Linked DNA regions of Homo sapiens. The protein of the gene in region 3 purifies or fractionates together with the protein of the main gene of each other region. This does not show direct contact. Each region holds a gene or a part of one and is shown on either strand. Other genes may lie near its edges. The genes, in order: SULF1, CNTNAP1 and SYCN.

Region 1 (2,437 bases), on a different chromosome or scaffold from region 3:
TCTTCTCCACCTTGGTCAACATCTTCCCCGCTATGCTGGAATTACTTCGGTGTTCTGCGGTGGCCATGGTGAACATCTGATGAACTGAAATTCCATCGGAATGCACAGGAAGATATAGTTGATCTTCAAAAATGTCCTTTCCAGGACCACCATACTGGGGAAGTTCTTTCGGGTGCCTGCGAATGGGCTGCAGCCTGGGGCTGGGCCCGAGCTCTAGCTCTGTCATGCCATCGCCACTGAAATCGGTTTCCAGATGATTAGTCTCTTCATGCCCCGTCCATTTTTCGGTTTTTCTCCAGTGTTCAGAATTCAAATGATTAACTTCTGGAATGTCGTTATTCCATTCAAGTTTACTCTCTGGACTTAATGTTGGTCGGTTCAAATGCAGGGTTTGAAGGTCAGCTGGCAAGGTCAAATGAGGTGTTTTCCCAACCTTATGCCTTGGGTCTTCATCTGAGTCAGCAGAGGCCATCTCCATTGACACAGCGTGCTCAGCAGAGACAACCAAGAACCCGTCACTTTGAGCAGTTTGAGTCTTATTTGTTTTATTTTGCTCATAGTGACTCTTCAGCAGTGCAAATACTCTATCTAAATCCTTCAAGTAATTAGTCCAGTCCACCAGACTAAGTCTGTAGTTTTGTCTGTACTCATAGATGTTTTCATTCACACTGTGTAGCTCCTCTAGGCCTTGCCAGTTGATGTCTGCAGTGAGACGGGGCTGATTAACCTTCCCATCCATCCCATAACTGTCCTCTGTGAAAAGAGAGAAGAAGGTGAATCATTAGTGGAGAAAAGGCTTTCTACTTACCTGGACAAGCAACTTACATTGTTTTTACAGAGTTAATCAATGAGAAGTATGACACTCAAAAGCATTTTCCCCTAGTCATTTGTTATCACAGAGTGGCCTTAGGTTACAGGTGATTAAACAACAGAAAATTGGGGAAAAAAAAGATCACATTCGTGAAAACATCTATGACTAAGCATGGTTAGTGCTGAAAATGGCACGGTCCTTTCAGCCAGGGGATTTGGGTTTCACTCCTGGCCCCACTCAAATCAACTTTGCAACCAGAAGAGCATGTGAGTGAGTCCCTCTGAGTCTTGCTCCCTCATCTGTCAAGTGTAGAAATAGTTGTATGATAAAATCATTACTACTTATAAGGTTGCTGGGTGAATGACAAATTTGAAAGTATTTGAATGTAATAGGCAATGCTTAGTATGATATTTTTATTTTATATTCCCTAACACTCAGTATAAAAGCAAATCTGAATGCAATTAAGCTCTTCAAATCAAATGCCTGGATTTATTTCTTTGATTGTTGTTTTTGCCCTGAAAGTTCTATGTCCTAGATAAATGTGTGCCTTAGATAACTGAATGACTTTCTCATATGCAAAGAAGGCACCAGCTTTCTCTCTCTCAGATCTTTCTACATCTCCAGGATGACTGTAGCCCTGCAGAAAATAACACTTGTTCTCTAGTTGTGCCTAAGTACCATTTGGAAAGAGGTGGCCTAGATGAGTGCAATGACCACCCATAAAGCCATACAGACCAGCAAGAAGAATAAGCAAAACTATACCAAACCCACAACCTCGGTCTAGCTAGAAGATAGAGAATCCTACAATCTTCAGATCACGTGTAGATAAAAAACGTTGACACCAAATCCCAGCAGAGCTGAATGTCACACTGTGGCCACAAGCTCTGGGAAAACAGTATGGAAGAGAGAAGAGGGAAGTGTCAGTGGAGTCAAAGATTGATTGGAGGCTGTTGGTGGAAAGAACGTCAATCTTTTGCATAAAATACTGTAAAGATTCCTGGTGAGCCACAGCACTGACAATGAGGATGGGACCCCTAAGTCCCAGCCTTGTGCCTGTGCACGATTGAAGGCAGCAGTCTGGGAGGCATTGCTTAGGGCAGAAAAGGACACAAAGGAAGAGAGAAGGGAGAAACAGCCATTGGAAACTGGGTGGTAAAACAAAGAGGAAGCAAAAGATGGGAAATTTCAGATCCTGCAAGAAAAAAGAGATACGAAAAGTTGGAAGACACACAACCTCTCTCACTTTCACTCCCAAATAATAATAAAATAAAAAGGTAAAGAGGAAGTATACTTAGTTACACTCACAGAAAAGAATTCTCTTAAACCAGGAGGGTTGTAAATAGTATAAATCCATGAAATAAAAGAACCTAAATCTATATCAAATTACCATAAAAGAAAGTAGAACAATGAGATACCATCTCATGCCAGTCAGAATGGTGATTATTAAAATGTCAAGAAACAACAGATGCTGGCAAGGTTGCAGAGAAGTAGGAACGCTTTCACACTGCTGGTGGGAGTATAAATTAGTTCAACCATTGTGGAAGACAGTGTGGTGATTCCTCAAAGATTTAGAACCAGAAATACCATTTGACCCAGCAATCCCATTACTGGATATGTACTCAAAGG
Region 2 (3,654 bases), on a different chromosome or scaffold from region 3:
ACGTTGCAGGTTTTTTATGGCTTTGGCTAAAGCAAGTGAAGCAGCGGAGGTACTAAGGTGCTAAACTGAGGCCTCTTGGTCTCTGTGTACAAAACAAAAGGAGGGGGGCAGGGGACAGCCATCAAGCCCTCTTGAGCCTCCAGCTGAGTGGAAGCAAATGGAAGATCTTCAGGGCAGGGGGGAGGCTGGGGGATAGGGTTTAGCAGCCTCCTCCCCCCATACCCTCTGCAGCCCTGCACTCCCACACATCTGTCCCTGCTGATAGTGTCTATTGGAAGGGAGGCAGTTAATCTCCCCTACACTCTGTTGTTAATCCCTGACAGCAGCTGGAACAGAGATGGCAGAAAGGACCTATGTCAACCCCATGAGGCTTCTCCTTTGGGGCAGATAAACAGCCAGGAGCCTGGGGAAACAGGGATGAGAAGGGCATTGGTTTAGGCAGTGAGGCTCGGCCACTCCCTTGGGTCCCATCTGTAGCTCTGCCCACCAAACTTGATGGGGGGGGGATGGGGGAATATCCTCTGGATGAGCAGAGCCAGCTAAGAGGAGCCAAATGTCCCTGATAGGATGGGGGAGAGGCAGGACTGGGGGAATGTCAGGAGCTGGAATTGGTCCCAGAAGCCCTTCTGACTCATTCAGACCTGGACTCCTCCAGGATCTGGGGTAGGTTCTGATCCCGGGGGCCAGGGGCTGGGGCTGGAGTTGGGGCTGGGGCTGGGGCTGAGGCTGGAGCTTGGTTGGGAGCTGCTGTAGGGGTGGGGACCTGGGCAGGGCCTGAAGTGGGTAGGGGAGGTTTGCTGCCAGGATGGTACTCGTGGGCAGCCTTGGGCTCATTGGTATGGTAGGAGCCCTTATAGCGATGATTTTGCAGATAGAAGAGCACCAACATTCCCACCAGCCCCAGCAGCAGAAAGGCCACCAAAACTGAAAAGAAGAAAAGGGACAATTCAGATCTTTGGGATCTCACCTGTATACACACACACACACACACACACACACACACACACGCACTCTTTGAGATTTCACCTGTATACATACACACACTTTGGGATTTCACCTGCACACACACACACACACACACACACACACACACACATTTACTTTTGGCCAAAAGCATAATGTATGACCCTCAGTTAGCTGTTCGACCACACTAAACTCATCTCAAGTGTCTGGCAGGTTTGAATTCCTGGCTTACCCCCTGCCACCTTCTGTTTCTAATATTCTCTTTCCACATCCCTGGTAGTTACCCCAATTTCTTATCTCTCTAGGTGTTACTGTATCCCCATTTTCCCATCCCTTAGCTATAGTCTCATTTTAATATTTTATTTAAAAATCTGTAGCATCCTCAAACATCTAAAAATCTCTGCCCAGTTATATGTCACCTTCAGCATAGCCTGTCTCATCCTCAAACATCTAAAAATCTCTGCCCAGTTATATGGCACCTTCAGCATAGCCTGTCTCATCATCCTTTGTGCCATTGTGCATCTAGTGCCTTTGCCATCCTGCAGCCTTGGGGATCAGGGGCAGGGAAAGGATGCTGACAGTCAGAGGGTAGTCTTGGGAGGTCAGCTTAGTGATCAGTGCTACTCACAGCCTAAAAGTATGGCAACCCATCCTTCATCATGGTAGTAGGGGAAGTCTGGAGAGGAGAAAGCACCAGTTAGGAGATGCCTCCTCCATGTTAAGAATCATTCCCTTCCGTGTCATCCCTCCCTTCTGTCCTCTGTGTCCTGGGAATGTACCTGGGGGCAGATACCAGGGATCAAGCTCAGGTGGCACCTCTGAAACAAGACGTGGCATAGCTCCGCAATTAGATTCGGACAGTTCTCCCTGAACTCGAAGGGCCTCAGCTAGCTCAGCAGTCATGGGTCGAGGGGTTCGGAAGTGGGTCTTGAGGGGAGCCACGTTGTTGAATCGAACACCAGACAGGCAGCCTGAGAAACCTGGGGTGTTGTAGCGCTGGATCTCCGGGTCAATGACTCCTGTCTCTGAGAGAGAGGCAGGCCCAGAAAGAGGGACTTGGACCCAAAGGCCCTGCCACTCTCACTGTCCACAGGTTTCCCACTCATCCTTCCCACTGCCCTCAGCCATTCCCAGGGCCTTCACTTTCCTTGAGGATCCAGGAACATATGCCACAGCTCCTTGCCTAAAACGCGTCCGCACCCGCAGCTTACCCATCACACGCCCTAAATACAAGGCCTTGGGTGAGTCCAACTGGCTGTCCACCAACAGCGAGAACTTCTGCTCTGTCAGTGGGAAGTAGTCCACCTGAGGTGGGGAGGGGGAGGGGGAGGGCGATGAGGGAGCGGGGACCAGAAGCAGATGCCTGTGGGCTGGACTGGAACTGTGTGGACCCTGGGAATATACTTGGGGGCAGATACTGGAGATCTCTCATTCTGTCCAAACTGGCGGTGCCAGCTGGGTGAGTCCTAGCTCAATCTGAAGTGGGCAACCCCTGGGCCTAGATGTAGGATTTGGTATATATATTTTTATTATTATTATTTTATTTTATTTATTAAATATTTTTCTTTGTGAAGATGAGGTCTTGCTATGTTGCTCAGGTTGGTCTCAAACTCCTGGCCTCAAGCAGTCCTCCCACTTCAGCCTCCCAAAGTGTTGGGATTACAGGTGTGAGCCGCTGCACCTGGCCTATATATTTTTTAAAACCCTGGTTTTAAGCCCCATCTTTGCAGCTTACCAGCGGTTTGACTTTGGGTAAACCACTTTATTTTTTTGAGATGGAGTCTCACTCTGTCGCCTAGGCCTGGAGTGCAGTGGCACGATCTCAGCTCACTGCAACCTCCACCTCCCAGGTTCAAGCAATTTTCCTGCCTCACCCTCCTGAGTAGCTGAAACCGCTTTACTTTCTGAGGCTCTTTACTGATTTGTAAAACACTTAAATAAGAATGCCTATTGTCTGGCTGGGCGCGGTGGCTCACGCTTATAATCCCAGCACTTTGGGAGGCTGAGGTAGGCGGATCATCTGAGGTCGGGTGTTCGAGACCAGCCTGACCAACATGGAGAACTCCTGTCTCTACTAAAAATACAAAATTAGCTGGGCGTTGTGGCGCATGCCTGTAATCTCAGCTGCTCGGGAGGCTGAGGCAGAAGAATTGCTTGAACCCGGGAGGCAGAGGTTGCAGTGAGCTGAGATCACACCATTGCACTCCAGCCTGGGCAACAAGAGCAAAATTCCATCTCAAAAAAAAAAAAAAAATGCCTATTGTCCCCTTGGAGCTATTGTGAGGGTTACATGAGGTGACACACGTGAAAATCCTCTATACATTCAAATGTGATCTACAAATATTAAGTATTTGATGTTTTCCTGGATGCCACAACGGAGACCATGAGGTTATGATCTGAACTGGCTCACCTCCCTCTATGCATACCTGGATGAAGAGGTTCCGGTAAACACGGGTGATATTGATGCTATGGGGCTGGCCATCGGTCACTGGTCGAGTGGTTAGCTGGTACACGTAGGGACTGGTGCCCAGCTGATATCGCAGCTGAAGGGTCCCTGTGGGGTGGGGAGAAGAAATTTGGGGTCTCAGGCCCCATGACTCCTATCTTCTAACAGCACGTGGGTCCTTGTATTTGTGAATCAATAGGAGAATTAGGGGCACCGGGGTGAAGCTGGAGTGGGGTGAGAGAGCC
Region 3 (3,593 bases):
CTGGGACTACAGGCGCCCACCACCACGCCTGGCTAATTTTTTTGTATTTTTAGTAGATACGGGGTTTCACTGTGTTACCCAGGATGGTCTCAATCTCCTGACCTCGTGATCCGCCTGCCTCGGCCTCCCAAAGTGCTGGGATTACAGGCGTGAGCCACCGCACCCCGCCCTAATGTTTGTATTTTTAGTAGAGACGGGGTTTCACCATGTTTGCCAGGCTGGCCTTGAACTCCTGACCTCAGGTGATCCGCCCACCTCAGCCTCCCAAAGTGCTAGGATTACAGGCCTGAGCCACCACACCAGGGCTAAGGAAGGGCTATTACTGAAAAGGATGGGGCATGTTTCATATTTAACAATCAGCCCAAGGTTCCCCTGCAGTTCACTCACATGTCCTTCTGTGGGCGTGTGTCTTCGTGCACACCTAAAACCATGTCCGAGTCGATGGCGTGTCCTTATCCATGGCATTGTCCTGGGTATGGGCTGACCCAGGCCCAACCACCCTGCTGTCTCCTCCATCCCACCCGGTCCTTGCATCCCAGGGACAAGCAGATGACAGACGGGGACAACTGCACAAAGGCTGTATTGCAGGGGAGGTGGGAGGGGGCAGGCAGAACGCTCCTCCTCCTGGGTCTTGGGGCCCCGGAGCAGAGCCCAGGGATGGGCTGAGTGAGGGGCTTGGCACTCTGTGGAAGCTGCAGATGAGAGACCAGCAATGCATCAGCTGCACCTGAAATGTAATCAAGAATTCCTTCCAGGGGCTCTCAGAGACCCAGAGTCTGGTGAGTTCTAGAAGCCTGAGACTGGGTGGGGGCTGGGGAGTCTGGGTCTGAGGCTCCAAGTTCAGGAACCAGGGATCCTAGCCTGGGAGTTTGGAGCTGGGGGCTCCTTGGAGCTCTTGGGGGACAGGAGTGGCTGGGGAGGGTTTGGGAGGGTGTCACCGCTGGATCTAGGTCCCAGGTCTGTGAGTGCAAGGTGGCCTCAGGGACCTCCAGGGTTGGGTCTTGGGGGTGGGCTGTGGGACTGATTTTAGGGCTGAGGCTGGTCTGGAGGGTCTAGGGGAGTGGAGAGCATGAAGGCTACACTGGGTGTTCCTATAATCGAGTCTGGAGTCTTGAGGTCTGGGTTAGTTTTGGAGTCTGGGAGCTTTGAGATGTGATGATCTGGGGAGTGGGGGCTGGCTTTGGTTCTGGGGACTCCAGGGTGAGGGGGTCTAGGAGCTCTCAGTCCCCAGAATTAGCCAGCCCTCTCTGGGAAGTACAGCTGTGGGCGGGTGGGTAGGCGGAAGATTCCAGAAGGTGGAGGGTTGGCTCTGAATCTCAGAGCTGGGGCGGAAATCTCCGTCCCAGGGGCCTGGGCTGCAGGTGGAGTGGGGACCGGGTGCTGGGGGTGAGGAGAAGGAGGACCTGGTTTGGGTGAGGACTCTGAGATGGGGGCCTCCAGGACTGGTTCTAGGGAGGCCTGGTGCTCCCTGTTACAGTCGGGAGCTCAGGGGTGTGGAGCAGCCTCGGGGCTTGGGTGGTGGGTGTGGGGGCTTATGCGGAGCTGGGGCCTGGGCCTGGGGTGGGCTCGGAGCTTTGGGCGGCCGGGCACCTGCAGTAGAGCGCGGAGATAGCGTTGGACCAGTCTCCTAAGATGCCCCGGCGGTACTCCTCCAGGCGCGGGTAGGTGCCGGCAGAGAACTTGTGCGTCTTGCCCGCCTTGCCTTGCCGGGACCACACGGTGAGCTCGCAGCGCGGGGCCACCACAAGTGAGGAGGCGGTGTTGGCCCAGTTGGAGGGCAGGTAGGGCAGGTCTGCGCCCGACTCCAGCGACAGCTCGGCGCCCCCGCAGCAGTTCTCATAGTAGGGGTCGCTCTTGTCATAGAGCTTGGCGCAAGTGCGCGTCCCGTCCGAGTGCTTGAGGTCGGCGGAGGCGGGGCAGGCGCCCTGGGCGCAAGGCACGGAGGCAAGGGCCAGGGCCAGCAGCAGCGGGCGCAGCGGGGACATGGTGGCAGTGCCCTGCCGCAGCCCCGCGCGCTTTTATGCGCCCGACCCGTGGGAAGGGACAAGCTGCGAGATAAGGACTCATCGAGGGAAGGGGAGGGCGCCCCTCCCTCAGGAGCCGGGAGACCTGCCTAACCTAGGTCGGAAGCCCACAACCCTGAGTACAAGGTGGACGCTGTGTATACAACTTAGCACCTTAAGATGTTAGGTGACCAACAACATTATAAAGAGAGACAATAGACAGAACTTGAGGAGGAGTCATTTGCAACACAGAGGGTGGCATAGGTTAATAGACAGAAATGGGAAGAGCTCTTAAAAATTGACAAGGGGCTTGCTGGTTGCTCACGCCTGTAATCCCAGCACTTTGGGAGGCCTAGACGGGTGGATCGCTTGGGCCCAGGAGTTTGAGACCAGTCTGGGCAACATAGCAAGATCCCATCCCTACTGAAAAATAAAATTAGCTCAGCGTGGTGGCATGGCCTGTAGTCCCATCTACTCACAAAGCAGAGGCGGAAGGATCGCTTGAGCCCGGGAGTTCGAGGCTGCAGTGAGCCGAGATCGTTTCACTGCACTCCAGCCTGGGCAACAAAGACAGGAAAAAAAAGATAAGGAATGGAACAACCCTTATTCTAAATAAGGAAAGACTGGGAGGGGGAGGCAGGAGTGGGAGGCTGGGGCCTCCTGGCTGGGCAGGCTCCCTCCCTGGGAGGCAGGACCTTGGGAAAGGAGAAGCTGGAGATAAGGATAGAGGCCCTCGTGGTGGGGCGGGGGGGGGCAGGTAGAGAAGGAGATGGGGAGGAGCCCAACGCCCCACCCCCCACCCCCACCAGGCTCAGACTGGGCAATCTTCCCAACCAAGGCTGGCAATCCAGAATCTGTGAAGTACAAGATAGCAGTATTTGCATAACACGTTAAAAACCTTTTGCAAGACAGTGTACAAAGGCTTGAGGAGATATTTGCAACATTTCAAAAGCATAGCATTGCAAGCTATAATATATAAAGAGTGCACACAGGTTGGGCGCGGTGACTCACGCCTGTAATCACAATACTTTGGGAGACTGAGGCAGGTGGATCATTTGAGGCCAGGAGTTCGAGACCAGCCTGGCCAACATGATGAAACCCCGTCTCTACTTAAAGTACAAAAATTAGCCAGGCGTGGTGGCACATGCCTGTAGTCCCAGCTACTCGGGAGGCTGAGGGATGAGAATCACTTGAACCCAGAAGGTGGAAGTTGCAGTGAGCCGAGATCGCGTCAAAAAAAAAGAGTGCATACAAATTGACAAGAAATGCACTCCTCCCTCCCACATGCTAAGGACAGGCCTAGGAGAGGGAGAGGGAGGGAACAGCCTGCAACTCCCACCCCAGGAGCCAGGAGACTTTCTTAACTAAGGTTGGAAATCTTCAATCTATAAAACTTCAATCTTGTTTTATAGATTTTGAGCTGTATAAAACTGTAAAAACTGTCATATAGCAAAAACAAAACAAAACCCACAAACCCATCCAGGGAAAAATAGACTCAATTCCTATCATATAAAATGAGCTCTTACCAATCAGCCAATAGAAATGAAACAAGGGCCGGGAGCAGTGGCTCACGCCTGTAGTCCCAGCACT

What was found.
Region 1: the proteins of SYCN (region 3) and SULF1 purify together in Homo sapiens (affinity purification with mass spectrometry; one large-scale study listed by BioGRID and IntAct). This does not show direct contact.
Region 2: the proteins of SYCN (region 3) and CNTNAP1 purify together in Homo sapiens (affinity purification with mass spectrometry; one large-scale study listed by BioGRID and IntAct). This does not show direct contact.

The regions. Positions count from the first base shown.
Region 1 is NC_000008.11:69,656,821-69,659,257, reverse strand, and holds part of SULF1 (extracellular sulfatase Sulf-1 isoform 1 precursor), read right to left. Parts: intron 754-2,437; coding exon 723-753; coding exon of another isoform or gene 1-722. UniProt on the Homo sapiens protein: Exhibits arylsulfatase activity and highly specific endoglucosamine-6-sulfatase activity. It can remove sulfate from the C-6 position of glucosamine within specific subregions of intact heparin.
Region 2 is NC_000017.11:42,695,888-42,699,541, reverse strand, and holds part of CNTNAP1 (contactin-associated protein 1 precursor), read right to left. Parts: intron 3,518-3,654; coding exon 3,390-3,517; intron 2,269-3,389; coding exon 2,175-2,268; intron 1,989-2,174; coding exon 1,743-1,988; intron 1,640-1,742; coding exon 1,592-1,639; intron 925-1,591; coding exon 632-924; 3' UTR 1-631. UniProt on the Homo sapiens protein: Required, with CNTNAP2, for radial and longitudinal organization of myelinated axons. Plays a role in the formation of functional distinct domains critical for saltatory conduction of nerve impulses in myelinated nerve fibers.
Region 3 is NC_000019.10:39,202,270-39,205,862, forward strand, and holds SYCN (syncollin precursor), read right to left. Parts: upstream 1,995-3,593; 5' UTR 1,986-1,994; coding exon 1,591-1,985; intron 728-1,590; coding exon 718-727; 3' UTR 556-717; downstream 1-555. UniProt on the Homo sapiens protein: Functions in exocytosis in pancreatic acinar cells regulating the fusion of zymogen granules with each other. May have a pore-forming activity on membranes and regulate exocytosis in other exocrine tissues.